7 separate regions of the Homo sapiens genome follow, and all the other regions are reported to be linked to region 3. The links are microRNA targets in miRTarBase. Many come from high-throughput screens and were not tested one by one. Region 3 holds a microRNA gene; each other region holds the end of a gene's coding sequence.
The links. The annotated mature microRNA hsa-miR-548ac reads CAAAAACCGGCAAUUACUUUUG and lies in region 3 at 2,925-2,946, shown strand. An mRNA with a match to its seed (bases 2 to 7 or 8) in the 3' UTR can be bound and repressed. Matches are read on the target gene's strand: a 7mer-m8 pairs with bases 2 to 8, a 7mer-A1 pairs with bases 2 to 7 and ends in A, and an 8mer does both.

Region 1: miRTarBase lists TMCC3 as a target of hsa-miR-548ac. Seed matches in the 3' UTR shown: 7mer-A1 at 3,728-3,734.
Region 2: miRTarBase lists VEZF1 as a target of hsa-miR-548ac. Seed matches in the 3' UTR shown: 7mer-A1 at 3,395-3,401, 7mer-A1 at 2,836-2,842, 7mer-A1 at 2,497-2,503, 7mer-m8 at 2,421-2,427 and 7mer-A1 at 1,901-1,907.
Region 4: miRTarBase lists RAB5IF as a target of hsa-miR-548ac. Seed matches in the 3' UTR shown: 7mer-A1 at 3,950-3,956.
Region 5: miRTarBase lists CABLES1 as a target of hsa-miR-548ac. Seed matches in the 3' UTR shown: 8mer at 2,954-2,961.
Region 6: miRTarBase lists CMTM6 as a target of hsa-miR-548ac. Seed matches in the 3' UTR shown: 7mer-A1 at 3,271-3,277, 7mer-m8 at 3,024-3,030, 7mer-m8 at 2,531-2,537 and 7mer-A1 at 1,729-1,735.
Region 7: the mRNA of FBXL13 is a reported target of hsa-miR-548ac. Seed matches in the 3' UTR shown: 7mer-A1 at 2,415-2,421 and 8mer at 2,351-2,358.

What each region holds. Positions count from the first base shown.
Region 1 is chr12:94,567,669-94,571,668 of GRCh38, forward strand. It overlaps TMCC3 (transmembrane and coiled-coil domain family 3), which reads right to left. Exons shown (of 4, transcript NM_020698.4): 4 at 1-4,000. The coding sequence ends at 3,767. MIR7844 (microRNA 7844) reads right to left here and starts at 3,684; the gene lies at 3,563-3,684.
Region 2 is chr17:57,970,611-57,975,238 of GRCh38, forward strand. VEZF1 (vascular endothelial zinc finger 1) reads right to left here. Exons shown (of 6, transcript NM_007146.3): 6 at 942-4,290. The coding sequence ends at 3,863. Among named protein-coding and RNA genes, the nearest start is that of VEZF1, 15 kb to the right of the region's middle.
Region 3 is chr1:116,558,356-116,562,983 of GRCh38, reverse strand. It overlaps MIR548AC (microRNA 548ac), which reads left to right and starts at 2,873; the gene lies at 2,873-2,960. The region is part of intron 1 of CD58 (CD58 molecule); the gene reads left to right. LOC105378925 (a long non-coding RNA gene) reads right to left here. Exons shown (of 3, transcript XR_947739.2): 3 at 1,797-4,628. RefSeq lists enhancers at 317-466, 3,066-3,305, 4,357-4,406.
Region 4 is chr20:36,611,847-36,616,364 of GRCh38, reverse strand. RAB5IF (RAB5 interacting factor) reads right to left here. Exons shown (of 4, transcript NM_018840.5): 4 at 3,808-4,355. The coding sequence ends at 4,314. It overlaps TGIF2-RAB5IF (TGIF2-RAB5IF readthrough), which reads right to left. Exons shown (of 5, transcript NM_001199535.2): 5 at 3,808-4,355. The coding sequence ends at 4,314. SLA2 (Src like adaptor 2) reads left to right here. Exons shown (of 8, transcript NM_032214.4): 6 at 991-1,140; 7 at 1,928-2,060; 8 at 2,379-4,047. The coding sequence ends at 2,499. Among named protein-coding and RNA genes, the nearest start is that of RAB5IF, 8.3 kb to the right of the region's middle.
Region 5 is chr18:23,256,497-23,261,001 of GRCh38, forward strand. CABLES1 (Cdk5 and Abl enzyme substrate 1) reads left to right here. Exons shown (of 10, transcript NM_001100619.3): 10 at 731-3,974. The coding sequence ends at 871. It also overlaps a transcript of SLC35D4 not described here. Among named protein-coding and RNA genes, the nearest start is that of CABLES1, 120 kb to the left of the region's middle. RefSeq lists enhancers at 2,803-3,466, 3,097-3,146.
Region 6 is chr3:32,480,425-32,485,052 of GRCh38, forward strand. CMTM6 (CKLF like MARVEL transmembrane domain containing 6) reads right to left here. Exons shown (of 4, transcript NM_017801.3): 4 at 888-3,673. The coding sequence ends at 3,536. Among named protein-coding and RNA genes, the nearest start is that of CMTM6, 20 kb to the right of the region's middle.
Region 7 is chr7:102,809,861-102,813,860 of GRCh38, forward strand. FBXL13 (F-box and leucine rich repeat protein 13) reads right to left here. Exons shown (of 21, transcript NM_001394494.2): 21 at 1,329-3,671. The coding sequence ends at 3,482. It also overlaps a transcript of FAM185A not described here. Among named protein-coding and RNA genes, the nearest start is that of FAM185A, 63 kb to the left of the region's middle.

The sequences.
Region 1 (4,000 bases), not on the chromosome of region 3:
ACACCTCTTCATATAAGCCCTGAATTTTAAGTGGTGCCATTTCTTCCTACCCCCAGCCCACTCCTCAGAATTACAGAAATATGTAAAATAGGTTGTTTAATCACACATGTTCATATGAATAAATATATTTAAATGTTTTTCCAAACCAATACAACTATATCTGGATTCACTGCAAAAACATTCCCATTCAATGCAAAATAATTTGGTACAATCCGACCAAAAAAGACAAAAGTAATTAGTTGCCTGAGGGAAGCTAGTTCCTCATTATTACTGAGCCCATAATTAAACCTGATATGCTAGAGAAATGGCAAGGCAATAAACACAGAGTGGGGCAATATTTAAATGAAAACAAGAGTGACAGAGCTGGAAAGAGCGAAAACCACATGAATGCTAATTGACAGAGAAGGATAACAGCCTCACCGGCTGAAATGAAAGACGGAGTTTCGGAAGATTTCCTTCTGTGAATAGCTGACAAGGATCACGCAGGCAAAAATGCTACCGTTCCAAGCTACAAACTTGGGACTAATCCCATGTTCATTGTCCAAACCCAGCAACGGAGTACTTTTTTGCTGTTTCATTATGGATTTCCATTTTTTTTTTTTTTTTTTGGCAGTTGGGGGTGGGGTGTTCTGGTTTAATCATATTCAGAGTTTGAGCTTGAAATAACCAACTCAAGACCCACAGGAGACTATGTCACCAGATAAACCCAGTGCTAGAATCCAATGTCCAGCATCTTCAACCACTCAGGAGTGTTTGCTGAGAGACCAGGTGGTGCTTACCCACCCAACAAGCACTTTCCATCTTTGGGTTTGCCCAAGATGTTTACCATAAATGAAAGGGGTGGGGAAAGGATTATAGTTGACACAAACATAAATTAAATATCCAATTCCAGCATATGTTACAGCTACATCACTATTTTTAATTGTAATATTTCTAAAATGTCATTTAATCTCCTTACACATTGAAGAGAACAAACAGTGGGAGTGTTTATTCCTTAAGAGAGAATAAACTGCAGAGATTAAAAGTTTCCTTCGAGTGTATCATCTTATTAAAAAGTACAAAGTTTCATGAACTTTCAACAAGACTGCAAAATAAATATGCCAGGTAGGTTGAGCCTATCCAAGTGAAAACAAGGTTATTTGACATTTAGTGAGAGTCAATGAAAATATGAATTATTTCAAAGGAATTCATGATCCAGGTAGGAGGATTTAGATCCTACGGTATGTTAGAATAAAGCTAGTTTCTAGCAGATTCTGTTAACAGCTCCAGACTAGAGGGGACGGAGTGTGCTGCTTTCCATTCTCTTCTCTACTTCTGTCACTGGGGAGAAGATACACGGATCACAGGTCTGAGAAGTGTGCATTAAAGCACATTTGCTAGGCTGAGCACTGGAATGGTGTGGGCTGGTGTGAAAATGAAGCCTACGTCTTCTTGGACCCTCCCAGAGCCCTTCACCTCAAGGGTTAGACATCTCTCCTTCTCTAAACTAACAGCAGCACTCAATCCCTGGTGTGTCCGAAGTGGTGCTTGGAAAGATTCACAGATACCAAGAGGGGCCCACCCAGGCCCCAGCTTGATTTAGGAGTGTAAGTTACACTCAGCACTCAGCCCACGCTGAGTCTGATGCCCACAGGTAAAGGGTAATGCTGGCCATCGAAATACAAAAGCTAAAGGAAGCACAACATTCTCTCTGCCTCCCTGCCTTGCACCTGGCCTCCTTATCTGTCTCCCAGACTTGAAAGATCAGTGTATACACATCAACGCGGTAGACCAGGGGGAGTCTGACAATGAAAGGAGAGACAGCCATGAGATCAGGGTGGGACTGGTAAGGGAGCTCTTCTCTGAATCCAAAATACTTTATCACCAAAGATTTCATGAAATGACATTTATTGTTTAAAAAAGCGTGAGTCTGGAATTAGATAGTGGTGATGGTTGAACAAGTTTGTGAATTTACTAAAACCACTCAATTGTACGCTTAAAAAAAAAAGCAAGCTTGAGCTGCCTAAGTCCCGCTCACACACACTGGACTTGTACTAAATGCTCAACGATTCCATTCTCTCAGACTATGGAACATTCTGTCACATTTTTTTCCTTCAGGAGATTTCCCTAAGAAGAGCTGTTTGCAAAATATTGCACTTAATTTGAATCCAGGGGGACCTGATGTCTCCTGGAAGAAAACGTACACTCACATGCCTTCCTGCCTGCAGCAGATGGCGGGAGTGGTGGGACAAGGGGCTCAACAGCAGTTTCCATGAACATTGTTTCCATCTTCCTCTTTGTTATACACACAGAGACACAGATTTAAAGGAAAGTATCATCTGGGCTGAAGGCGGTGAATGGTATCCCCCAAACAGGGATGTGAACTTTTGAATGTTTTCAGCTCAGAGGCAGTATGGTCGTCCTAATACCTCAGGACTTATGTTCAGTGAGATGTTAAGAGACAGGTGGCAACCTTGGCTCAAACACTGGACTTAATTTATTTTATTCTTGCTAGTCTTTCACTTCTCAAAGACGATGCTCTCAATCTTCATCCAGGTGAACTGCTCCCACTAATCTAGCCACCATTCAGTCACACCCTACGTCCTCGTTTCCTCATGCTTTCAGCGTTCCGACACCTCAGTGCACTTGAACTTTAGAGGCTATGGTTCGGTTGTCCTTCAAGGAAAAAACTGCAACATGACCATCATTTGTTTTCATTTCCTGAGTAAGCTTTGCAGTCCCTCACAGACCTGTGAATAAGATGAATCACATAAAGTGAATCATATCCTCCAGGGGGGCTTATCACAATCAAGATTTGCCAAAAAACAGCCAGGCATGGTGGCTTGTGCCTGCAGTCCCGGCTGCTTGGGAGGCTGAGGTGGGAGGATCCCTTGAAGCAAGGAGTTTGCAACCAGCCTGAGCAATATTTAGCAGAGCCCTGTCTCAAAAAAGAAAAAAGATTTGCCAAAACACAAACCTTCAGAGTAGTGCTCACAGGATTCCAAATTAATGTTAAAGTCACAGTCTGATGAGGGATTTGAAAACATTCCTGCACACTCTGAAGGCTGGGCATTTGCTAGCCAGTTGAGACAAAATCAGGTGTTGGTTGCCTGGGTATGAGAAGGTGAAAGCCCCATTCATAAATCCCTATGCCTTCCCATTTAAAGTGTAACAAAACCCCTCAGGTAGACTTGTTGGATAACAGGTGTGTGATAAGATTTCCACGTTACAGGGTCATACACGACTGACTGCTGTGGACACTGAGTACATGACGGGACCTATGGTCCCCTGGAGAGAAGCAGGGTGGATCACACGGGGACCATAGGCCACAGTGTTTAACACTGCCCAAGCCTGTGATTCTTCATTCCCTGAATCATGCATATCCTTGCTTTTTATAGGACTCACAGAAAACAACCATTAGCAATTGTGAAGCTCAATTCTGACAGAGACTTAGGAGAGAGACCTCTTTCTTCAGGATCACCAATTATGCCAAGGTCTCAATATACAGAGGTTTACCACGCTGGGCTGGTCAGGTGGGCAGGAAATCGGTCTGATTAAGGCAGTGAGCAAGGTAGGAGAGCTCTGAAACAGATTCGTGTTAACGAAGTACAAGGACTGAGTTGGCAACTGCTACGGAGTTAAGAGAATTGTAGTTATTTACACCACACAGTCCTAGTTTTTCTTACACACGAGTCCGCACAATCATTCACTGTAAAATTTGGTAGTATGCACAGAGTTTTCTTTAAAATAAAAACTTGAAAGAACTTGAAGGCAGGAACCAGTGGCTTCATCTTGGTATTATCATCCTTTCTATGGCACACAGGATATGGTCCCAGTTTTTACAAAATATAGCAAGAAGAGTCACGGCAAAGAAGGTGCCAAGAATGTGGCAGCGACTCTTCATCATGGGTGAGACGAACTTCGCGATGGTGGACACACACACTAAGATGACAGTCATGAAGGCCAGGATCACGTTGATGCACCTCCCCAGGAGAACTTTAGCATTCACGGTGTCTGTCTG
Region 2 (4,628 bases), not on the chromosome of region 3:
GAAAAAGTGCAAGACTGATGGCCAGACCTATTAGGGCAGGGAGGAAAAATTGATTACTGTCCCATGAACAGATTGGACTTTTAGGTCCAATGATCCTTGAGGATACTGAAGTGAAAACCTCCACTATCTCCTCTACATCCTAAACCTAGGTCGATTCAGAGGACCAAACTACAGGGCCCCTTGAGAAGAGTGGAGACACCTGAACAGCCGGGACTGGAATGATTAACTAGCAACTCAGTGAAATAACACTTCCCTTGTTCCTAGGACAAACACAGCACGAAGAACACTTTCCTCCAGCTGTGTTCACTGAGTCACTAAAGGCCTAAGACAATTATCACAGGAAGTTTGGAAAGCCTCAATTCTATATAAAACAGATGTAGGTATCCAAAACTTTTTCATTGAATGAAGTGTCACATTCATCCTGATTTGCTGTTTGGTGATACCATCACTCGTCCCATCTCCCTTAACAGCCTCCTTGGAGGCAGCAACCATGTCTTAAATCAACTTTTCATGCCCCTTAGTGCCTAATAGTGCGTGGCACATTGTTGGTCCTCAGTGGGCATCTCATAAATCTAGTTGAACACAAATGGGCAAGGGACCCAGCTTAAAGCCCCTTTCAACTAAGGAAATTGGGTCCTAGAGCATGAGAAGAAATGTTTTAAACCCATCTTCTCTTTTGGGTAGGACAGGGACCTAAACCTGTGGCCACTGCCTCCATCCTAGCTTCCTGGGCCTTACCTGAGCTGCTTGGGAGGGTGCACCTACCAAGGGCAGTCAGTCTGGTGCCCTTCCACCCTCCAACCAGCCTGATACTGGTCCCTCCCTCTCTCTCCAACCCAATACTGAGATGTGCGCACCTGAAAAGAAAGTACTTGAAAAATTCCTCTATTATCAGAGCAAACTGATGAAGCTTCTGAGGTATTAAACAATCCATCATAACATTTGTGACCAGTTAACTTTAATTTTCAAAATAAATCTGCAGTATTTTGCATGTTAGTAATACAGTGCTGGTATTGACAGGTAAAATCATCATCTGCTTACATAGAAACCTTCATTCAGGAGCACACCGTAGGAGGGGAACGGATACACAATAAAAAGCAAACGCAGGCCAAGCAGCGAGCCCTAGAGCGTAACAGGCTGGATGTCAGATTTAAGGATTATCTAATACAACTGTTTAGCTGCCAATCTGATAAAGGGGAAGCTCTCAACCAGGTTACAACCAGAAGGGAAAAACGTACTCTGCCTTTTCGTAGAGCAGTGGCTGTCGTGCCTTCAACACCTGGTTGAATCAGTTCATCAACATCGAAACTCAATTCCAGTTCCAAGACACAGAATTTCATCACACAACCTATTCGGTACCCCTTTTCAGTGGCCCACCCAAAACCCCCTCCTGCCATCGACTCTCTCCCTCCCAAAAGAAGACATGACGTGGCTTTATTATTGCAGACAAGCTTCTTAAGTGAATAAAGAATGCATACAAAATAGTATTTTAACTGAAGTCATACAATGAAGTCTCACTCCTGTTTATTATACAATGAATTGATAAAACAATTACTTCTAGTATATATCTTTTTTTTTTTAGAACTAATACTTTCAGGGTTCTGACAACCACATTCTAGCTTAGGGGTAGGGCCCACACCTGCCCCCACTGAGGACTGCTCCTTGGACCACTGTGGAGGAAGCCTGGGCTGTCTGAATTGTGAATTATGACTGCCAGCCCACCAGAGATAACAGATCCCAGCAGGCAGAGCCAGAACCCAGTTTTGGGTCTGCATGCCAGGAAATGTGAACTTCCTCCAAATGTGGCCACTGTGCCTCCCAATCCAGGCCTCAGCAAGGTCATTCTTGGGCTTTCCCTACACGAGTCCTTCCAGTAGTCCACACATAATGCTCTACATATTAAAAACAAACCATTTTTGTACTGTGGATAAGAACAGTTGTAACAAAGTCATAGCTACATATTTTTCTCTACATTTTGTTTATTGAGACAAACTAATTAAAAGGCACAAACATAGGGCATGTTTACATGGACATTATAACAAACATATACATTAAAAGTGTAGGAATGTGTTGCCTTCCTGCTAAACAGAAAGTTCCTAAGCTTTTATATATACAAAAGTTGTACAATTTAATGTCCTAAAGTACAAAAGATCATTTATAAAATTATTTTACACTAAGTACTATTTATTTTATTTTTTTACTATGTAGTTCAACCCCCTAGAACTGTTTTGTATAATGACACACAGATACCTGTCCCTGATGTAGGAAGTCTGTCTCAGATGCAAGGTATTTTGATGCTTGAACTGACACAGTAGGGTATAAATGGAAATCATCCAGTTTGATAGTCAGTCCTGCAAACATTCTGCAAGATTAACACAACTAATTTCCATTTCTCTTAACTGCAATGATTAAAAAATGAAAAAAACCAAAAACATATTGCAACTTAAAAAATCACAGCATCTTGGTTTAGTTAATTTTTTTTTTAACGCAATGCTTTAAAAACAATGCGTGGCATGATGGTGTAAAGAGTATCTGTTTCCCTAGCTTTTGGTTTCTACTTTATGTACAGAGATAAAATATCTTGCTAAGAAATAAAAAGCACATGTCTCAACGTGCATAATCATTGCTGGGTTTCTACAGGGAATGCAGACAGCTGTCTCCCTGAAAACACCACAAAGCTGATACAAGTGTTTTCTCAAAGAAAAAAAAAGTGATGTCCATATTTACAAAGTTGAACAAATCTGCGCAATACTTAAGAAACGGAAGGAGAAATTTAAAAAAAGATACACTCTGCATGTTCTGAAGGGGCATACACTACCTAGTTAGTGGTTAGAATAAAAACTGTATACAATTTAATATAAGACATAAACTCTAGTGAGCAACTAACACATCTGTCCCTGTTGTAATATCAACAGGCTCTGATTGGGAGAGAGAGGGGCATATCACATCCCAGTGCCTCCAGCGTCTTCCAATTTAAAGCAATATATTTGTACTGTTCCAAAGTACTCCTTGGCTCCTAAATAGGAATCCCACTGGACTCTGTTTATTAGGAGCTTGCCTGTCCACACACTTGACTTCTCCTCTGTCAGTTGAGGCTTTTCTTAGCAAAACACAATTTGTAGATTTTTTTTAAATTTTTTTTTTTTTTAAAAAGTCAACTACAATGCTATATTCCATCGGGATTAATATGCTGAGCAATATTTACATCTCCAAATATCAGGTCACAATCCCTATTATACGTTGAAGTTAGAATGATAAATTATCATATGCTTTGCATATCAGAGCTGGTATCACCTTTCCCATAGGGAATGCTGCCTGAAATTAACATATTCCCAAAGGTAAAATGCATATTCTCTGAAATGCATTTTATTATGACAATGCATGTATTTACTCATAAAAACAATAAACACAGACAATTCTACACTAGCTCTCAATCTGTGGATTTAAAATTTCAGGTTAAAATCAGCCATCCACCTTGTATAGGGAGAAGAGTTCTGCTAGTGTTTACAATAAAGTGATTCCTTGGGATTAGAAATAGTAATGCTGTTTTTTTATTTTGAAGTGGGTTCTACTTATGATTGGTTTTAATTCTGGCATTTCATCTTGCCAACTACTATCCTGTTTAAGCAATGTTGTCAGCTAAAAGGAATTTCTGATTAAACTAAAGTGGTCCAGTGATAAGTTACATACACACCCTACTTTGAATAATCCCAGCCAAATTGGAGAAAAATGCTACCACACTCTTATTAACTAATGTAATAAAATCTCCCAATTTCATGGTTTACTTTTTGCTTTAATCAACTAAAAGTTAAGTTGCTGGTAAATATTTACTTTTACCCATATTTTGATTTTATAATACTGTTTACCAAGGCGGTGATGTAGGCAAAGCTTGGGGCAAGAAAGGCATGCTCTCTACAGGTCTCATTGCTATATTGAGAGGGGCGGCTAATGTCATAGGTGTGGGTAGATTCATTGGAGATGTGATGGTGACAGGGTGTGCTATATTCACTGGGGCAGTGACGGGGGTGGGGAGGTTGACTGGGGTAGTGAGTGTTAAAGGAGAGGTCATGGATAATGGACTGGTTATAGTTACAGGATGCCCTATGTTCATTGGGCTGGTTATGTTAACTGCACTTGAAACATTTACTGGACTTCTCATGCTCATTGCAGCTGCCACTGTGACTGGGTTTGACATAGTCCCAGACGACACAGAGGATGTTATACTGAATGGAGTAGTGAGAGTCACAGGTGTCGTAGCAGCCGTGGAGGTTTGGCACAGGTTAGCAGCTTCTAAAATAAGAAGAAAAAGGGTCTTTAGATTCTCAAAACAGTGAGCAAAATTCACAAAGTTTCTGAATCAATTTCTTTTCATTAAAAATGTCAAACATTTAATAAATCAAATTCCAGTTTTCTATCAAGCGGTCAACAGAACAGAGGATCTTTCTGAGCACAAGCCTGGGGGCCAGGGATCCCAGTGTATGAATCACCTTCTGATGCTATACCTCCTGCAAGGACTTAAGCAACTTGTTTAGCCTTGCACTTTAGGTTTCAAGTTCAGATTTACTTACCTACCTCACAGTGATGCTGAGAGGATCAGTTAACTTCTGCAATGCAGGGCTAAGTGTTCT
Region 3 (4,628 bases):
TTTGGATTTAGACTTTTGGATTAATGCTGGAATAAGTTAAGATTTTGAGGGACTGTTGGAAGGGCATTATTGTGTTTTGAAATGTGAGGACATGAGATTTGGGAGGGGCCGGGGTGGAATGATATGGTTTGGCTGTGTCCCCACCCAAATCTCACCTTGAATTGTAATAATCCCCGTGTGTCAAGGGCAGGGCCAGGTGGAGATAATTGAATCATGAGGGCAGTTTCCTCTATACTGTTCTTGTGATAGTGAATAAGTCTCACAAGATCTGATGGTTTCATAAAGGGGAGTTCCCCTGCACACGCTCTCTCTTGCCTGCCACCATTAAGACATGACTTTGCTTCTCCTTTGCCTTCTGCCATGATTGTGAGGTTTCCCTGGCCATGTGGAACTGTGAGTCCATTGAGCCTCTTTCCTTGATAAATTACCCAGTCTCATGTATGTCATTATTAGCAGTGCGAGAATGGACTAATACACCCCATCTCTACAAAAAGTTAGCCAGGTGTGGTGGTGCACGCCTGTAGTCCCAGCTACTCAGGAGGCTGAGATGAGCCTGGCAATTGCTTGAGTCTGGGAATTTGAGGCTGCAGTGAGCCATGATGACACAACTGCATTCCAGCCTGGGTAACAGAGCAAAAAAATAAAAAATAAAAAGGTAGGAACTATTTTATTATTAACAGAGTCTGTCTTATTCTGCTGTTGTTGACATTTTACAGATCCTTTATTGCCAACTATCTGCATAACTAGATTTTAAGTTCCTTGTATGCAGAAGTCATGTATTATTTTTTAAAATTTTCCTTATATTGATCTGTTTTTTTTTAATAGTAAAGATTGTTGAATCTGAACATTAGATGACAATGTATTTGTCCAGCATTTCTCCATTTGAAATTATCTCACATTATTATGTGAGACTTGTTCATGTGCTTTGCTGGAGTTGAGACTTAGACAGTCTGTGTTTTTTTATTTAGCAAAGATAATCCAAGTTAAAATAGTGTTGTGTGTTCCTATAGGAAAACTAGGCCCAGTGTTATAACAGAGTGTAAGTAATAATAGCCACTAGGAGGTAAGTACCTGCTCTGTGCCAGGAGCTATGCTTCAGATTTGAGATGTTTTTATTTAATTGTCACACTGATTTTATTACATAGGGAACATTTAATAGGAGAACAAAGCTTAGGTAGGTTCAGTAATGTGTCCAAGTTCACACAGCAAATAAGTGGCAGAGTGAACTTGAACTTTGATTCTCTCTGAATCAGAACCTATTCCTTTATATGCTCTGTTGTATCCCTAGCCTGAGATCCACTAAGCAACTTTTTGAAGATGAGTACTACTGATTTCTTATATCCAACATGTATACATTGTCCAATGAAATTCTGCTAAAACATGGGAAATATAGGTCAGCACAATTACCAGTCATGCAAAATTGTATTTAATATCATAATTTGTAATGGTGAGGGGTGCTTCTTTGGGACATAGAATTTACAATGGCAATTTATTGACATATTTATTATTAACATTATTATATTTACATTCTCTAGGTACCCACATTTCACTCCTAGACACTTTTGCATAATCTCAATAACATCATAACATCTATAAATATTAACACTAATCCTGTAACATCACCTAACTTTTACCCGTATTCAGATTTCCCCACTTGTCACAAGAGTGTCTTTTGTTAAAAAACCCGGATCTAATCAAGTTTCACTCATTGTATTCGTTGCTATGTTTTTTTGTTTTAATTTTGATGGGCATCTTTCAGAAGTTTTAAAATAGTCTTAGAACCTCTTTTTAAGAACCAGATTTGAATAATTTATTTTATTGACCTCCTTGTCACTCTAACATTTCTTTAGTAAATACAGGCTTTGAGGGTAGGTATTGGTTTCTCTGTTTAAAAGTAGAAACTTTGCATAAATCAGCCCTTATATGTGTAAGTTTTCTGCCTTTTGGTTTCTTCTCATGCTGTTTCTGCACAAGTGCCTAAGCTTTTTTGAAGCTTTACTTGAGGGGTGACCAGAAGGTTTTACTTAAGGACACAGACCCTTAAATTCTGCAATGACAAATCTCAACTTCCATCTCAGGGTTGTAAGTGAAACCAGGATGCAGCCGTTTCTCTTTTCTCAGATAAGTTCAGGTTTGAATATAAAGTGTGACTATAAGATACAGAGACTGTCCCTAGAAAAGGAGGGGAAAACATTTTAGCAGTTCCTCTTTGGAGATAACTTTCAGTGCCTGCCCATCAGCCTCCAAGGAAAATGCTTTTTGGTTACTTTATAGGTTCTAGTGAACTTTGCTTACTTTACAATGTTCCCCAAAATGTCTGTTGAGATTAGTGCCTGAATTTCCACTGGGCTGACCAGTCTGTAGTTTCTTGAACATTTTCTTCCTATGCCAGTTAAAAATTAGAAGAAAATTGAAGTTTAACATACACATTCAGAAAAAAATAAAAAATCAGATTAATAAGAAACTAATGAGGCTGTGCCATTGTAAACTACTTGCAATAGAGTTTCCCAACGATGAACTGAGTATCTAGAAAATAACAAGGATTCTCAAGGAATTTTAGTGAAATGATCAGTACTGTATTGAAATACCTTGAATCAGACTTTGGAGAATAGATTTAAAAACACTCACAGCCTTAACCGATCTAGTAAGAACCTTATTCCCTAAAGCATACTGTGGATCTCAGCTGTATCCTATCTAAGGTGAGAACAGTCAAAGACAAATGTGGCCTTTGAGAAAGGTGGGATGTGAGTGTCTTGAAACAACAGGCTAAAGAAGTGCTCTCAAATAGAAGTATAATATGGAACATGTGAAATTAATTTTAATAATATATTTTAGTTAACCTAATATATCCATAATATTTTCATTTCGACATGTATTAGGTTGGTGCAAAAGTTATTGTGGTTTTTGCTATTTTTTTTTAATGGCAAAAACCGGCAATTACTTTTGCACTAACCTAGTAGTTACTACAAAAAAATATTAACAAGAGATTTTATGTTCCACTTTTTAATACCAGGTCTTCAGATTCTGGTGTGTATTTGATACTCAGAACACATCTCCATTTGAACTAACCATATTTCAGGTTCTCACTAGCCACTTGTAGCTGGTAGCTACTTTGATGGATTGCATAGGTCTAAAGGGAAACATCTTGAGAAAGAAGAAATAGGTTAAGTGCAAGAACAAGAATTAAAAAGGAAACTATTTTAGCATCATATTAGAAGGAAAGTACAGAAAGAAGTTGATTTAGAGAACCAACATCTTAATTCTTGATGAACTTATCGAGGAGGCAGATTGACAGCTGAGAGCAAGGTCCGGGAACCTTGCTCTGGCCTTGGGGACCGAGGGTTTGTAACCGTTGGGAGACAGGTGGCTGCAGTTTCAGTATGAAGTAGATGAGGGCAGGGAAACTGGTGGTGGTGTGGCTGAAATCAGTAAATCTCTGTCTTAAGGAAATAAGAGAAGTCACTAACTGGGACCGGCTAAGGGTGGAATCGATCAGGAAAAAAGAGGAATGGCCCCAACCAAGGCATCTGATGTTCTGGCCAACAGTGCAGGCTCTGGGGCCGACTGCCTGTGTCTGGACACCAGCTCTGCCCCTTGCTAGCTGAGTGAATGCAGTCAGCTGACCCTCTCAGTCCATTTCTTCATCTGTAGCCTGGTGCTTCGGAATCTTTGACCTTCTCTATCAACCAAGTGTCCAGCGGAGCAAACCACCTTACTTTGATAGGCGTGTTCTCAAGAAATAACTCCTTTCTCACTCTCACCCCAGATGTTCTTAGGCTCGCTCCCCTGCTTTTCTGGACTCTGCTCAGATGCCAACTTATGACTGCCCCCCATGCCATCCAACTCCTTTCCTTACCAGTACTCCTCAGCCCCCACACTCTGCTTTATTTTTCTCTATAGCACTTAACATCATCCAACATCATCCAAATAAAAGATATTTACTTTTTCATTTATTATGTTCTTCCCTCCACTGAAAAATAGACTCCAAGAGGGCTGGGATTTTGTCTGTTTTGTTCATTGCTATATCCTGCCTGCTTATTTCAGTGTCTGGCACATAGGCAGGACTCCATGAACATTTGATGAACAAATAAATGAATAATAAGAACTACCTCAGAGTTGAGTTGAGGATTAAATGAGTTAATACACAAACAGCTCTTGGAACAAGTGCTTGTCACATAGTAAGCCTGCAGTGAATCTTCGTGCTGCTGCTACTGTTAAATATTATTACTGAGGCTGAGCTGGCCTAGGGCTCCTTGGATTGGACTTGCTAAGAGCTAGGCAAGAGTCACAACTGTATGAAACTTGATTGAGTTAAAACAAACAGTGCTACTCCTCTTTATTATCTCCATGCCTGGTAAGCACATTTTCTACCCCCAAAATTGGGACTGACTAATATGAGAATATTTATGGCCTTAATAGGACAGGTTATTTGATACAATTACTAGCCTAGACATTTTAGGAGATTGGCCGCTCCTCAATACTATAAATGCATATATGGGTGTGTAGATAGAGATGTTGCTTCCCAGATTGCCACACATCCTGATACTGCAAGTAGGCATCAACTGAAAATGTGCCGTGATGTGAAGACCAAACGCAGAGAAGTGAGAGGGACAAGGCTGTGCTCAGTG
Region 4 (4,518 bases), not on the chromosome of region 3:
AGGGAGACTCTGTCTCCAAAAAAAAAAAAAAAGAAAATTAAAATAAAAAAAAAAAATGAAAAAATGAAACATGCAAAGCTGGTGAAACTGTCATTCATCAGTGTATGTAATGTATACATGTAGGTTGAGCAGCACTAATAAAACTGACATCCACGCGCCCACTTGCCAGCTGAAATTACCTAACAAGCCCTTTGTAGCCCCCTCTCATGCTTCACTGTGTTAATCATTCAGTTGCTTTTCTTCAGAGCTTTGCCGTGTGTGCCTGTGCAACATATAATGTCATGTTGGCTATCTTTGAACTTTAAATAGAATCAGGCTGAATGTATGCTCTGTAATGTTTTTCTGCTTAATTTCCAAGATTTCCTTATGCTTATATGTAGCAGTTATTAATTTTTACTGCTGTATAGCACTACACTCTATAATCCACAATTTATTCTACTCTTGAGCACAAACGGGCTGTTTGCCGTTTTTGACTTTTACAAACAATGCCGCTGTGCATATTGCTTGTGTGCTTCTGAGGTATTGTGCCTGGGAAGAACTGCTGGGTTGTAAGGTACGTGCATGTTCAGCTCATCTAGTTAATGCCAAACTGTTTCCAAGGTGGCTCGTACTAATTTCTCTTCCACCAGCAGGGTGGGAGGTCCTACTTCTCCACTTCCTTGCCAGCATCTTCTTGACAGTGTTTTTGCATCCTAACATATCTGCCACCTGAGTCTTTGTAAGAACAGCCAACGCTGAATGTTCACTCACACAGTGCCAGACCCTGTACTGAGGGCTCTGTGTGTGATTTGATTTCACCCTCACAAGACCCCCATCTATTATGAACATATTATTGATGACCAAGAGAGCAAGTCTTTGTCCTGCTTCTGCCCCAGACACTTCCCTTCTGCCGGGGCCCCATGGTCACGTTGCCTATCTTCGTTTCCCAGCCTAGGTGGGGCCGAGTCCCAGCAGGGCCTCAGTGCCACCCCTGGACCCCTTTCTCCTCAGGCTCTTACTCTCTGTCAGTCCGCCTCAGCCGCCCTGCATCCTGGGACCGGATCAGACACTACAGGATCCACTGCCTTGACAATGGCTGGCTGTACATCTCACCGCGCCTCACCTTCCCCTCACTCCAGGCCCTGGTGGACCATTACTCTGGTATGGCCTTTCCCTGCCTCCAGGACTAGGCTGGGATAGTCTGTGGGGAGGAGCAGGCAGTGGTGCCCTTGGATATTTTACCTACTGTGGAGTATTCAGACAGACAGAAGAGCGGCCTCCCCTATTTTCACGCCAGTCCCTATGCCAAGAAATGCAGGCTGGGAGCCCTGTCTTCACCTCGTGCCCTGGCAGAAAAGCCACAGACCTCCTGTGTAGGCTCAGGTCAGTACCTTGCCTACCACTCTGGTTCTGACTCAGAGCCCCTGGCAGCAGGCAGAGTTCTCTCCACAGGAACCGGGCACAGAGCTGCTGCTGTGTGGGATTCAATCCTGACTCTCCTTAGTACTTCCTGGTGCCTGTCCTTCAACAGACACTGGAAGATGCAGTCACTGGGCACAGCGTCAGGGGGCAGAGAGGGAAGAGCACTCTTGTGAAAACTCATTAGGGGTTTTCTGCAGGTCACTCTGTGTGGAAGTAGACAGTGAGTAGAAGTAGACTGAGCATTCCTTAGCTTTCTTCTTCCCAAAGCAATTTCCTAACCAGAAACTTGAGCTCAAGAGGTCCATGAACTCACCCTAAATCATACAGTGACTGTCTCCCAAAAGTTAGCCCAGAAAGACCTTTGACTACATCTGTCTCCATGAAACCAATAGCTTGGGGCTCATGTCCTATCACTCTTTGGTAACCATGCCCCCTCCTGCCAACTGCAGAGGGCTGTCAGGGTGAGGGCTGTTGGGGAGAAGTAGGGTGGAGTCAGTCATGTCAGGGATGGAGGTCTCTTCCTCAGAGCTGGCGGATGACATCTGCTGCCTACTCAAGGAGCCCTGTGTCCTGCAGAGGGCTGGCCCGCTCCCTGGCAAGGATATACCCCTACCTGTGACTGTGCAGAGGACACCACTCAACTGGAAAGAGCTGGACAGGTAAAGTTGGGGACTCCTGGAAACATGAAAGCAGGACCAAGAGTTAGAAGGACCCACCCCTGGGAAGCCACAACCCGGAATGTACCTGTCACACTCAGGGACACCTGGCAGCTGGAGCCAGAGTGCACTGACTCAACTCCTGGAGCACGGCCCAGGCTCGACAGGTGGGGCTGGGGAAGCTGATCTGATAGGGAACAGGGGAGCCCCATGAGGTCCTCAGCAGGAGTGAAGGGTTTTGAGAACAGTGCAATTTTGTGTGTAGTGAGTACAGGGAGGAGGAAGAGGCTTCTTGACCCAATTATCTTCCTTTGTCCACAGCTCCCTCCTGTTTTCTGAAGCTGCCACAGGGGAGGAGTCTCTTCTCAGTGAGGGTCTCCGGGAGTCCCTCAGCTTCTACATCAGCCTGAATGACGAGGCTGTCTCTTTGGATGATGCCTAGGCCCAAAGGAGAGGCCAAAAGGGAAACCAAGGCTGCACACCTAGAACCCCAATTCAGCCTCCTGGGCACCCCAGAGGCAAGGCTGTGCACTCAGGGAGGGAGGGTGGGACACAGAGGTGCATCTAGGGTCCCACCTGTACCCTTGCTCTTTCCTCTCTTAGCCCTTAGAAGTCACCTACTTCCTTCCAGTGCCATGATCCCACCTGCGACCTCTAGTGCGAGTGCAGAGAAGGTGGGACCAGGGCCAGGGTTCCAAAAAGAGAATAAGCCTCCTGGGGGGTCTGACCTAGTTAGTTCTTGAGTTTGGGGTTTCCAGTACCATCTGGATGCCCTGCCTGTTGAGCCCCATTCTACATCCCCACCATTAACCAGGCCCCACCCACAAGGTAGAAACAACCCCTAGAGTCAACGAGAAAGTCATTTTCAGAAAATCTACAAGTCTCGTTGAGACCACCACCATACCTCAGAAGGTAGGACTGTGGCCTAGAAGGGAAAGGAAAGCTGAGATGATGTCTTACCGTAGCAGCAGATCTTGGATGGTCCAGGCTCTATGTGACCTCCAGAGCAAAGAGAAAGACTTCGGACAGTCTAGGTCCTCAAATGTCCCCCATTGAGGACAACAGCCCCAGCTCTTTTTCTTTTTTTTGAGACGGAGTCTTGCCCTGTTGCCCATGCTGGAGTGCAATGGCACGATCTCAGCTCACTGCAACCTCCATCTCCTGGATTCAAACAATTCTCCTGCCTCAGCCTCCAGAATAGCTGGGATTACAGGCGTACACCACCATGCCTGGCTAATTTTTTTGTATTTTTAGTAGACATGGGGTTTCACCACATTGGCCAGGCTGGTGTCGAACTCCTGACCTCAGGTGATCCACCCACCTTGGCCTCCCAAAGTGCTGGGATTACAGGTGTGAGCCACGGCACCCAGCCTAGCTCTCAGATCTCTATTTCATTTTGTGGCTTACCATTCCCTAGCACACTGGCCTTGCCATCTTGTGGCCGAATAAAAAATAACACCTCTTAAGTCTAGCACACTGCAGTGAGGCCAGGCACCTCAGTGCTGGGCAGGGGCATCAGAAGGTGCTAAGCCCTCTCTCCACAATGCCAAGACGGAGACCACAGCCTACACCAAATCCAGCCCTTGATTTCCCTGCTGCCTCCATAAACAGAAAGAGGTCTGCTGGATCCGCTAAGGGATCAGGGAGAGGAAGAAAGAGGGATGGGGTGGGAGGCACCCCCTCCAGTGCTCCTACTGGTTCCCAAGCTACAGGTGGGGTGGGAAAGGCTTTATCAGGTATCATCAACAGGTTCTCAATTAAAGATTTGATTTATTCAAGTATGTGAAAACATTCTACAATGGAAACTCTTATTAGATGCTGCATGTACTGTGCTATGGACCACGCACATACAGCCATGCTGTTTCAGAAGACTTGAAATGCCATTGATAGTTTAAAAACTCTACACCCGATGGAGAATCGAGGAAGACAATTTAATGTTTCATCTGAATCCAGAGGTGCATCAAATTAAATGACAGCTCCACTTGGCAAATAATAGCTGTTACTTGATGGTATCCAAGAAGAAATGGTTGGTGATGGATAAATTCAGAAATGCTTCCCCAAAGGTGGGTGGTTTTTAAAAAGTTTCAGGTCACAACCCTTGCAGAAAACACTGATGCCCAACACACTGATTCGCGGTCCAGGAAACACGGGTCTTCCAAGTTCCAAGGGGCTGGGGTTCCCCAACGATCAAGTTCCTGTGCTGTAATCAAGAGGGTCCTTTGGACTGGATAGGGAGCACTTGGGAGCTGTACACCATCAGTCATAATGGATGGCAGTGTAAAAGATGATCCAAATGACCTAGTGAGGAGACAAGCACTGTTCATAGGTCACCTGGCTTAACACAGGCCGATTCCACAAAACAAAAATGCCAGATGAGAATGTAAACACGGGGCACTCTCCAGGGGCTATCCGTTGCACAGTCTGCTTGGGGGGTCTAAATTATTTCACTGAAATCACGCTG
Region 5 (4,505 bases), not on the chromosome of region 3:
TTGAGACAGCATCTTGCTTTGTTGCCCAGGCTGGAGTTCGGTGGCACAATCTTGACTCACTGCAACCTCCACCTCCCGGGTTCAAGTGAGTCTCCTGCTTCAACCTCCCGAGGAGCTGGGATTACAGGCGCCCACCGCCACGCCCGGCTCATTTTTGTTATTTTTAGTAGAGACGACAGGGTTTCACCATGTTGCCCAGGCTGGTCTCAAACTCCCGACCTCAAGTGATCCACCCACCTCGGCCTCCCAAGGTGCTGGGATGACAGGCGTGAGCCACCACCGGTTTGCTTTATTTTCAGTCTTCCCTTTAAACCTGAATCACTTAGTTGCCACAGGTAGAGTTTGAGTCCCAGTTAGGGTGGACTCTTAGTGCTGCAATTGGCTACACATGTGACCCTGGCTAAGCTCTCTGACTTCTTGGAGCCCGTTTTCTCATCTGTAAAATAGAGATACGGAGCATGAACCATGTCATATTCCTGAGAGGATTAAATGATGTCATAAGATGTATGTGTGGTTCCGGGCAGCCCCTCGGGAAAGGAGCAGCTCCTTCACAACCAGGACCGAAGGCAGGAAGCACAGCCTGTGCCTCCCTTTCTTCCTCCACAGAGCTTTGCCCAAAGTGGATTTCTCCTGAGCACTCACTGGCTGGTGGATAGAGAAGCTGCAATTGCAGAAAGACTAGGATTTTAATTTCAAAATGAACATGCTTTTGATTTTCTTTTTGTTGCAGAAACTGGAAGAGAAGTTCCGGCTGAACAGGCGAGAACTGATTGCCTTTGAATTCCCGGTGTTAGTGGCCTTGGAATTCGCCCTCCACTTGCCCGAGCACGAAGTCATGCCCCACTACAGACGGCTGGTCCAGAGTTCCTAGCACTGGCCCCGAGGACAGCCAAGGGCCATTTCTTCTCAGCTTGGTGGAGCAGCACTTACTTACTACTGGAAATGAAAAAAAGTAGAACTCAGAATACCAGACTTTTCTTCCTCTCGACATAGTTTGGGGAGAAGCAGTACTAGAAACTTTCCAAGGAGTCTTGGGTGTGTAGCCAAGAGGAGCCATGAGCTATGGACTCCTCAAGCACGGGAAGAGGAGGTGTGTGCTGAGAACAGAGAGGCCCTGCCCTCTGTCCACTAGCGAGAATCCCTAGCTGCCCCAGCCCAGTCTTTCTCCCCGGCATTCACAAACTTTGCAAGCGTGGTCCAGGGCCTTCTCCAGATCTGTTCCAACTTGGAGTGTGAAGGGCTTGAGCATACGGGGGAAGAGAGTCTGCAGAAGTTGGGGGAAAACTTTTAAAAGATACCCTCATTGTGTCAAAGAGTGTGCCAATCTATTTTTGTATCAGCATTGGAAGTGCACTTTCCCCTGGGGCGTGTGGGTGTGTGAATGTGCAAGTGTCTGAGAGATACTGCATCAGCCCTAGACCCCCAGAGCCAGTCCCGCCCTTTACAGAGCAGCCCTTAGCCTGGGGCCATGGGTCAGGCTGACCTTCAACAATTATTTCTAGATGATTTCTGGATAAGAATTGCTCTCTCGGTACCAGACAGTTTGACATCCTCCACCCTTAGAAAATGACTGACATTGTTTTGTTACTGCTCCTACCCACCAAGGGGATAAAGAAGGCGAGTTCTGAGTGTTGGATGAGTCAGTCGCGTGGAAGGACGTGGAGCGTGGCGCTCTGTAACTTCCTGCCGTCTGCCACCCCGCCACGTGTATTTAACCCTCGCACTTTCTCCACTGTGGAGATGGCTGGGGCGGCGCCCCACAGTGTGTATTCCTGTCCTCTATGTTAGAGTGCATCAGAAGCACATTTACTGTGCTATCTATATCGCTATATAAAAGTGTTTTATAAAAACCCAGAATAGGAGCACGACGCATGATTGGTGTTTGAGGCGTTTGCCAGCTGGGACAAACTGCGTTTGGAGCTGTGGTTAAGCTGACTAAGGAGGCGGTGGCTCTTTCTTAACATTCCCACGTGCCCAGGGCTGTTCATGCAAGATTTTAATGGTGACTTGTCCTGGCTTACTGGGACAGTCTGTATGAGGCATGTCACCACACTGTCGCCTCATAGCTGCAAGAGAGAGGCACCAGCTGAAGTTCCCCTGACTGAAGAGAGCCTGTGGCCATGTAAAAAGAGAATTAAACTCTTGTTGCTTTTTGTATACCTGTATGCGTTTGTGTAGACGTGTGTCTCACCAGTCACCTTTGCCCTGCATTGCTGATCCCCTTGCGCACACTGATTCTAGTGAGGTCACAGATTCGGAGCTTCACACACCAGCCCAGAGAAAGGGCGATGGAACCGAACCGAGGGTCTGCAGCTTTCGTTAGCAGAGCTGTCAGATTCTTGACAGTCTTGGAGGATGGAGAAATTCAAGCAGCAGCTGGTGAGGGCCAAAACAGAATACTTGGCTTCTTCAGAATCTTAGATTGCACTGAGTTTAGTCCTAAATATTTTGCTAACAAATTTCCTTGGCCAGAATCAGTTGTAAGACAGTGATTTGGGTGGTGGGGGGAGGGAGGAGGGAGAGGATATGATTAATGTGGTCTCTTTGGCTGATCGAAAGCTAGATCAACTGGTACTTAGGGCACTTGCTGTTTATAAAGCAAAATTGAGAAAATATTCAAGGTGCCTCCATCGCCTGAACTACAAAATGCCCTTGGCCTTCCTCACATGGGGTCTGTCACCTTGCATCTCTGATAAGCCATCCACCTTCCTGGTCAGTGCCTACAGGGGGAGAGCCTTTCTGAGAAGCAGGTCCTGTGGTATCTGAGAATGGTCTAGAGAGCTCCCCACTGCCCATCTGCCCCCGAATTTCCTGCCAAGCTCTGGGGAGTGGGGTGGGGGGAGGGACGTCCGATGGATGACAGGCCGCCAGCCCAGACGTGGGGAGAGAAGCCTGAGTCCTTTCCTGTGTGATAAAATCAGGCTAATTTACTTGGATTTGGGGTGATTTGTTTGGTTTTTAGCATTTATGAGGTGAGCCCATGAAGTTAGTGGTCCATTACTTTTTAAAGATGCATTTTCATTTTAAACTGTCTCCTGGCCTGTGGATTTGTGGAATGGACAGTTTTGTGGGTTTTAATTTATTTGTGAGGAGTCGGGGCTGAGAAGGCATTTTATCAGGAGGTCTCCTTTTGCACGTCCATGACATGAGCTTTTCGGAGGCAAAGGAAGTGGAGGAGGGTGAGAGATGCAGGTCACTGCCAGAGGCACCTCTGTGACACGGAACATTCCAGACACGTCGCAGCCTTGGGCTTCGGCGAGGAGGAAGTCTGAGCCTGTGAAGCGAGAAGGCCAGGCAGTAGACTGGCTCTGAGGTTTTGCCCTTTGACCTCCTCCACAGAGGGCAGCTTCAGCCCCTTGTAAGCCCTGCCCCCTCTCAGGACTGCCCTGAGGCCTCTCCAGTCCTCCCCACACTCAGAGATCTGTGGGGAAGCTCCGCCCAGCCACACTCCTTGGGATAATACTAGCCGGTTCTGCCTGATTCCTTTTCCCCCGGAGCCAGCCTAGGGGGCCCGGGACTCCTCTAGTGAGCCTTGACTGTTAGGTAAGAGACAGGAAGCAGACAAGCCAAGAGGTTGCTGCAGCTGCCCCCAGGAGGAAACGGGCAGCAGGGAGTGTGGCCCAGCCCCCACTGTACCCCTCCAGGGGCCCGAGCCCTTGCCAGCCCAATGACACCTTGAAGTCACCACTTTTCCTTTCTTGCCCGCTAATAAAACCTATTTAAACAGGAAATTCATACCAAATGCAAATGGGTTTTGTTTTCCTTGGCATTTTGTTGTTCCGATCACAGATTTCCCTGCCAGGGTGTCTGTGGTTATCAGCTGCAGGCTCAGCTTGGGGCGGCCGCTTCACACAAGCCACTCTGTACCACGTGCCCTACCTTAGTGACGGGAGTAAGGAGCTTCCTTCCCCTCCATGTCATTCCTTCCTGTTCCCTTCATTCCCCAACAGCAAATAAAACTGTTGAATGCTCTGGCTGCTGAGTTCTTTATCTCTCACTCAGACGTTTCCGGCTTAGTGCTGAACAGCTGGCCCCTTGCCCTCCCCAGCCCTGGCTGCCTCCCGTGACTCCTGAGAGCCTGAAGCCTTTCTGCCCTGCTGCAAGCTTAAGTGGGTGGGGTGGGGGGAGGCTGGAGAATGAAGTGCATTTGAGCCAGGTGGTTTTGTTACCTGTTCAGCAACAAAAGACATCTTTCAAATCAAGGGGGATTTTTGGGGTTGGGGATGGGGGCGCGCCCTGACGTCACCTCCCCGGGGCTGTTGGCACAGTTGGGTAAGCACAGTGCTGAGGGCCAGCAAGAGCAGGGAGTAAACTGAGTGTAAATCTGGAATCACATCACCAACACCAATGTCAATAAAAAGCAGCTTCCAGTCATGCAGCTGCAAAGCAAAGCTGAGATTCAAAGCTGGAAAAGAAGAAAAATGGCAGGTGAAGGGGAAAGGTCCTCTTGCCACCTGCACACAGCCCAGCGGAAGGGACCCAGGCCAGGATGGGAAGGGGTGCTA
Region 6 (4,628 bases), not on the chromosome of region 3:
CAGCCTCCAAAGTAGCTGGGGTTACAGTCATGTGCCACCACACCCAGCTAAATTTTGTATTTTTACTAGAGATGGGGTTTCACCACATTGGCCTGGCTGGTTTCGAACTCCTGACCTTAGCTGATCCGCCTGCCTTGGCCTCCCAAAGTGCTGGGATTACAGGAGTGAGCCACTGCGCCCAGCCTCCCCCTTTATTATATCAATTTCTATGACACACATTACTGTACTTGTAGAAAAATTTGGCCACTGAATTCACCAATGTACCCAGATGTCTTATGAAATAAGTTTTTCTTACTGTTTAAGACACATTTAATTAGATTTTCTGCTTCTTGCAGCTTATTGCATATTGATACAATGCTCTTTATCAAAACAAAACTCAACTCTAAACTCTGAAGAATGTACAAATTCCAGTGAGTTCTTGATGACTATAAAGACCCTGTTATTCTCACACAGGGTGGAGGCAGGAATTTCGCAAACTACACAAATAGCTGTAGTTTTACCAGCACCACCCTAATAATTTTGCTTCACACTTTCCCAATCATTGAACAGTTCCTAAGATAATGTGCCTATTTTGTTTTTAGCATTGTTAGCCACATCTAGAAATGTGACAAGGAGTCTAAATTGCTTCTTTGGAAGTATTTAAAGCCATTTGTAAGTCTTCCTCTGTGGTTCCCTAAAAATGTTGTTTAAATGTGTATTCTAACTTTCCAACAAGAGGGACAGTTTATGGATGGGAAATGGATTTGTTTCTTTTCTATCCTAGATATATCTAAAATCTAGTATTCTATATAGGCACTCAACAAGATTGTGCAGCCAACTCCCACAACTACAGAGACAGCTTTTCATTTAAACATCACACTTCTGTAATAAACACTTACAAAGGTAAGAACGTTTTAATTAAATGGATTTATTTAAAAAGACTATAAAATCTGACATCAAGAGAGATAAAAAAAAAAGACCCATAAGATTTAAATTGACAAATATAAAATGATTGGCTACAATGTAAAAATACATTTCCCAGCCCCCAAACAAAACACAAGTATAGTAATTATAAAATTTTTGTACTGTGAGTTCATTTCTCTTATAATTCTTGAGAACCATTCTAAGCAATCTATTTGTATAAAATATAAAATTTATCATAACTGTTAATTTAAAAATTATTTTAAATTTGAGTTTATTGAATTTGCCATTTTTTTGTACATAACAGTGGTTTCTGGTCCCAAGTTCCCCTTGAACTTATTTACTACAATGGTCTTTTTACTCCTATTTATTTCCTTCTACAATAGAAAAGAAAGGCTAACCATTCATGGGTCCCATAAAAAACAATGTGAAGGAAGGTTCTAAGAGTGACCAAATATACCAGTGAACATACTATCTTTCTGAAAAAGAAAGAATTAAGTGACCAACTAAGAGATCCACTTTTGCACCAATGAAACACATGGAGGTGAAACCTCAGAACAAGCGGAGCTTAAGCTCAATGACAGTATGTTTTATATGACAGGCCAGCTGAGAATGTATCTGTCAATCCTGACTAAGCCCAATACATGGGTGGTGACCCTGAGGTAGCCCAGATGATATGCTCTGAATTTTAGATAGGTCTAAATCACAATGGTACAGTCTGATGTGAAACTTTAGTCTACCTACCATAAACTCGTTTTCTGAATCAGTCCTTATTCATAATTAGACCCAAAACCCAGCTATTTCTCCTCTCTTAGATGACATGCCCAATAAAAACAGCATCCATGATTGGTTTCATTATCTCCCAATTAAGTAGTGGTGACACCACCACTAACACTAGTATCCAAACTCTGATACAAATCCTAAAGGTATTGAGTCAGTAAGACAGAGCAGAAGCTATGTTGGGCCATACTGACCAATTTCTGAGAACCACATTAGCCACATTCATGCAATTAAAACCCATCTAAGACACACAAATGGCAGATGAGAAAAAAAAAAAAGGATGAGGTCATTAAACTTTATCACTGGAAACATGATTCCACTGTTTCAAATAGGAAACCTACCCTGGGAGACTTCCACCAAAGTGCAGAAGGACCTGATGCACGGGCTCATCATCTTAACACTAGAGTCCCAAGTCAAAACTCTAGGAGGAGGATAAGAAAGGTCTAGTCTGTGAATCACCTGGACAGAAAGGTCATATCCCAAGTGCCCTGCCTATCTGTGACAGCTGCTAGCCAACAGACAATTCTGGTTATGAAGTTATCTCTTGAGAATGGCTTGATTCTCTTATGCCACCAACAGTATTAGTCTGGGCAGGGTTCCCTGGATATTTACTTTTTTTTTTTTTTTTTTTTGCCAAAGACAAACTAGAGCAATGCCTATGTAAGAACAAGGACTCTCAAGATCCTGCTACACAGTATTCACAATCAAAAGGGCCCAAGATTCAGGACCACCTAAAGACAACTGACAAAAAGTGTCAGAGCCAGAGGCCAACCTCTGCTAGATGAAGCAGCAGCACATGACTCCATTTCTATCTGATAAGGAGACAGAGAAGAGGCATCTCGAACAGATGAAAAACCAAAGGCTGGTGTCCTAAAAAAAACAGATTGGCTTCAAAGAAAACACTAAGGAAGACCCACAGAGCTGTATTAATTTTAGTAAAAATAATCATATGCCAACAGGGGAATTGAACCACTTTCTAAATCATAGTATGAACTCATCTCTTCAGATACTTGGTAAGTGGTCAAAGCTTGTTTTTATAATTACTTTCACTGTCTTGGGCAAAAAGTCTTTCTTATCTTTGGTCCTTAGGTGTGGTATCAGTTTCTTCCATTTTTTTATGTGTTACAAAACAATCTTTTTTTTACTTGACATCAACAACCAAGGTGCAGTATAAACACGAAGTTGCTGATATTGTTGCTTTTATACACATAAAATACCAACATCTCCCATACATTTTATAGGCTATACGAAGGTCTCAAAGAATTAATAACCGTTATCCAAAAATATTATAACATTTAAGGCTGAGTGAAATACAGTAAAGCCTGGTAATATATGTTAAGGAAAAAAACCTAGACCAACATTTTAAATATTGGTTTCTTAAATATGTTAAATTCCCATTAACAGAACATAATCTAAGCATCAAAACAAACAGCTAAGCAAATTAATTTAAAAATAAAACAATTTCTAAGTAGATGAATATAATCACGATGTTTATACAGCTATAAAGCATAATTTGGAAGCTAAGCCTAGTAAAAGAATGACCTGTAACAGAATGACAGAATCATTTATCAACCGTTGAGCTGTGTGATTTAAAAACAATTGTTTTCTCCTCCTCCCACCAAAATCTCCATTTGAGATAAGTTTCAATTATTATTTAAAAAAAAATTTTTTTTAACTTATCTGGCCTACTTTGTGGTGACTGACACAATATTGATAAAACTGCCTTCTTGACCTTCCCCTTGCTCTCCAAAAGAAGTGGTTTAAACAATTAACAAATTTTACAAGAGCTTCTGCCAGGGCTCAGGCACCACAATGCAGGGTCACTACCTTAGGTAACATCTGCTCCCCAGAGTCTTTAGGCATTAAGTGGCTCAGTGAGGGCTTCAGCCCTAGTGGTATTTTCAGGTTTTCTCAGCTGGGACTCCTGTCGTTTTTCATACAGCATAGTGATAAAGTCAAGTAGGAACATAAAACTTGCTATAAATCCAAACACCTGAGGAAAAAAAGGAGGAAAGGTTATATGAGAATTTTGGAATATAATCTTACATTTCCTACTTGGCTTGGAGAATGTTTCATATAAACAAGATGTTCATGAATTTTATCTTATACACGACTACTCTTTAATGGTAAAAAAAATTTTTTTAAGTCATCAAAAAATGGAAAGAAGTTATAAAAGAAAAACTTCCAGAATAATGGCTATTAGTCAAAGTCTCACAAAATATTAATGTTCTGCCTTATGTGTGCATGTTTATATGTGGAGGGCTAATATATGAAAGTAGGGTTAACAGATAAACATTAAATCCTATAAAATGATACAAAACAAAAATATTTGCATGGTTAGATTGACCCACAGATGCGATAAGGAAAATACGTGACTAGGCAACTCAGCCTAGGTGAAAATGAAAAAAGTTATTAATATCAAAACAGAAATTCCATTTTGAAGATACTATTAGGTTAAATTACTTAAATAATGTTCCAGTTGTCACACTGCAATGACACAGTGACATGACGCCACTACCTACTTCCTCTTCCTTAAATCACTTCCTCAACTGTTCTCTTCTAAAATACGATCATACGTTCTGAGAATTCTATCAAGAGACAGAAGACCATGCGTCTGCTTCAAATTTAGCTTCTCCACTAGCAAAACCCTTAAGGATATGGGGGCCAGATAAGTTCTCTGTAAAAAAGAGAAAATTGATGTAGGTGATGGCTAAAGTCTCTTCCAAATCTAAACTCCCTATCTCCACGATTTTTATTAATAACATTCTCTTACAGTCTGTTGCAGTCTCCTGACCTCTCCTCCCCCCTCTAAAGAATAAGCATTCCACCTCATTTTACCACAAAGTAAACTGAGCTCCAAATTCATTAAGTCCCCCAGATATCCCCAACATATCCAATCTAAATTTAATTATCAACGCCTCCCACCCTCCCATCCCCCGCCACAAAAG
Region 7 (4,000 bases), not on the chromosome of region 3:
TGGGCAGATTTCTCATTAATTGTTACCACCACCTTCTTGGTTCTGTCCTCATGATAGTGAGTTCTTGCAAGATCTGACTGTTTAAAAGTGTGGGTATCTTCCCCGTCTCTCTCTTGCTCCTGCTCTTGCCATGTGATGTGCCTGCTCCCACTTTGCCTTCTGCCATGAGTAAAAGCTCCCTAAGGCCTCCCCAGAAGCCAAGCAGAGAGGCCCGTGCGATGCTTTCACAGCCTGCAGAACCAATTAAACCTCGTGAGTCAATTAAACCTCTTTTCTTTAGAAATCACCCAGCTTCAGGTATTCCTTTATAGCAAAACAAGAATGGCCTAAATCGCTTGGATTATATTTTTTATGATTAAGATAAGTCAGTTCTTTTTTTGTTTGTTTTTTGAGACAGGGTCTTGCTCTGCCACTCAGGCTGGAGTGCAGTGGCACAATCTTGGCTCACCGCAACCTCTGCCTCCGAGGTTCAAGCGATTCCCATGCCTCAGCCACCACAGTAGCTAGCATTACAGGTGCACGCCACCATGCCCAGCTAAGTTTTGTATTTTTACTAGAGATGGGTTTCACCATGTTGGCCAGGCTGGTCTTGAACTCCTGGCCTCATGTGATCTGCCTGCCTCAGCCTCCCAAAGTGCTGGGATTACAGGTGTGAGCCACTGCACCGGGCCAGGAGAAGTCCATTCTTAAACACTAATTTTTAATAAACCTTTCCAAATATTATTATTTATGATGATCTTTTTCTTTTTTTCAGACGAGGTCTCACTCTGTTGCCCAGGCTGGAGTGCAGTGGCATGATCATAGCTCATTGAAGCCTTAAACTCCTGGCCTCAGGCATCCTCCTGCCTCAGCCTCCTGAGTTGCTGGGATTACAGGCAGGTGCCACCATGCTCTAATTTTTAAATTTTTTATAGAGATGGGTTTTACTATGTTCATCAGGTCTCGAACTCCTGGCCTCCAGTTGTCCTTCTGCCTTGGCCTCCCAAAGTGCTGTGATTATAGGCATGAACCACTGTGCCCAGCCTCCTTTTCATTAATTTTCCATTTCTTTAGAGTTCTGTTTTTAACTTCTTATTTATGAAACAAAAGTCAGCTTTGTAGGATATCTCAGAGTCTCCTTTTAGTTCACCCTTCATGAAATCAGAATGTATACAAGTCTGAAAGATACTCACACATTGGTATATTTGGTATGGTTGTGGTGTGTTATACTATTAAGTAGAGGAAACTGTGTAGCAGTGAGGCAGTTTTGATAATCTTTTTTCACCCTCATGCAATTACATAAACATTTTCATGACTAAAAATAAATTAGCTAACCACAGCCAGAAAAGTCATAAGCATAACAGCAGTCAACTATATTTAAAGCTACTAATGGAATTGTACATATTTGGATCACATTGTTAAGTCCCAGACAAAAAGAAAAAGCTGCCATAATTTACTCTCTTGGACACAGACCTATGAATATGAAATACGTAAGGGCTAAAGACCTAACTAATATCTTTGATATTTTGAGTAGTTTGCATCGAAAACTTAAAAGATTTCTCTACCTGTATCCCTATTCTTGGTCTCCTTTCATAGCTCACTTTTTCTACTCCTTTTCTTCATTTATGTAGCTGTAAAATTTGTCTCCCCAGAATGAATGAATGTGTCTTCTGTTCTTGTTTAAGAAAGGATGTTACTCAAAGAGCTTTGGAGCAAGCTCTGAATGTAAAGCAACCTGCTAGGTTTCTGGAGAACATAACAGGGTGTGTTTCTTACCGGGGTCTAACCAGTGCAGGTGTCATTCCTTTAGAAAGCAATTGCCTCTTTTATAAGTTCCACCAGTTGTGTGCATGAAGCACTTAGGGATCAGATTTTTGAAAACATCTTTAATGCAGCTGCCAGAAATTTCCAAATTTAGGTTAAAATCATACTCTTATGTCATCTTATGTCTCTTGGCTATGGTCTAAAACTTCCCACTCAAATGATTCTGTTGCCTGTGTGCCCACTCCTAGGAACCTTTCCACAGCTAAGTAATATTACCTTATTTCAAAAACTTTGCAAGTCAACCTCAGTGGGGGAGAATTACTAAAAGCATTTAGCTAATACAAGGTAGCCTATAATAATACTTTGTACAATCTTTTTAAAACTTTTCAAAATAACGATGCTTTATCTTAAGTTTTTAATCCTTATTTGAAACTTGTGGGATACAAAAAGAGAATTAACTCCACGTGAGAGATAAGTAATTGAGGAAATAGAAAGGTTAAAAGGCTGATCTGATATTGCTGACAAGGCTTGTTTGCGGCAGTCAGAACAGAGTTGTGTTTTCTCTTGGACTGTGTCAACATCAGTGTTACATAATATCAAATAATGGTAAAAACCCACAGATGTGCTCACTTCGGCAGCACATATACTAAAACCTACGGATTAAAGCTTATTAAAAACTAATATGTAGATATGCAATTAATAACCCATACTTCCTAGCATAAAATTGAGGGAGCATCTTTTTTGGCATAGCATAGTTTAAGAATTCCTCCGTTGTGCAAATTTGATTAAAGAGATGTCTTTCTGAGACATTGCAGGGACATTCTTTCTATTCAGATAGTTCTTGTTTCTATTTAATTTGCCCCTGACTAAGTCAAATGTTGAGATAAGTACAGAGTTAATTGGCGGCATTTAGTTCTCTTTTGTTGTTAAATGTCTGGAAACCACAGAAAAGCCACATTTCCTTTGAAAATATTAATATATGTCTGTATTCTTTATAAAGCCTTAAAAAGCGTTACAGATCCTTAAAGTTATTCCCCTGGCTCAAACTCTTAGTTTGACATATGGCCATCTCTGCTTTCTTTTTCCTTTCTAAAGAAAAATTTCTTAATTTCTTGTCAAAAAAGTCTCATCTCTCAGGGTTGTTTCATATAACTGTAGATTTTATAATCTCATCAAAACTATTGGTTTGATTAAATTTAGGCAGAAATTTTGTGTAGTCAGTACTTGATTTGGCTTCTTTTTTTTTTTTTTTTTTTTGAGACGGAGTCTTGCTCTGTCGCCGAGGCTGGAATGCAGTGACGTGATCTAGGCTCACTGCAACCTCCGCCTCTCAGGTTCAAGCAAGTCCCCTGCCTCAGCCTCCTGAGTAGCTGGGATTACAGGCGCCCACCACCACACCCGGCTAATTTTTGTATTTTTAGTAAAGATGGGGTTTCACCATGTTGGCCAGGCTGGTCTTGAACTCCTGACTTATGGTCCACCCGCCTTGGCCTACCAAAGTGCTAGGATTACAGGTGTGAGCCACCGCTCCTGGCCTGGCTTCTTTTTTAAATCATGATTATTTAGACAGAAGAACTACTGATGTGTTTGGAAATATTTGTAGTTGGAATAAGAATCAGAAGATGGTTTGTTGCTTGTTTACATTGTTATTGAGATTCAGCTAGTAAACATACTTGCAACAAATGGAGAAAACTTGCCAAGTTCTTGATTTTTTGTTCTTCCTGCTTGAGGCTGAAGGTCACGCTGCTTGGTCTTCACTGCTGTATGTTGACTTTTTCACTGTTAATTCTAAGGCTCCTTTAGATGATGTTATGTTGTCAAGCTCTGTAACAGGGTTTCCTTCCCTATCATAGCCAAACCAACGTGGAGGGTCATTAGTGTTGTATTCCTGCTGCTGAACTTTAGATGACATTCTTTGAGCTGCCTTCCTGTAATAACAGTGCTTAGCATTAGCTAGTTGCAGAAGTAACCCCTAGTGCAAAATTTTCAAACTCAACCAAATTTGGAGTTAGGGAATTCACTGTCACAATCTGAATTCACATGAGACCTCTCTTGCCTTGCTGAGAGTGAGGATATGGGTAAGTGTACAAATAAACAGGGTCCCAAAGCCTCAGTAACTCTGATTCAGCCAGTTCAGAAATTAACAGATACAGTGAATGGGTAAGGAAACTACACATGGCCATGGAAGAGGAACACTGAGGCCTCTATTTATTTATACTGCTTTAAGTAAGCCCCTTCCTTGGTATTTCTAGTTTCT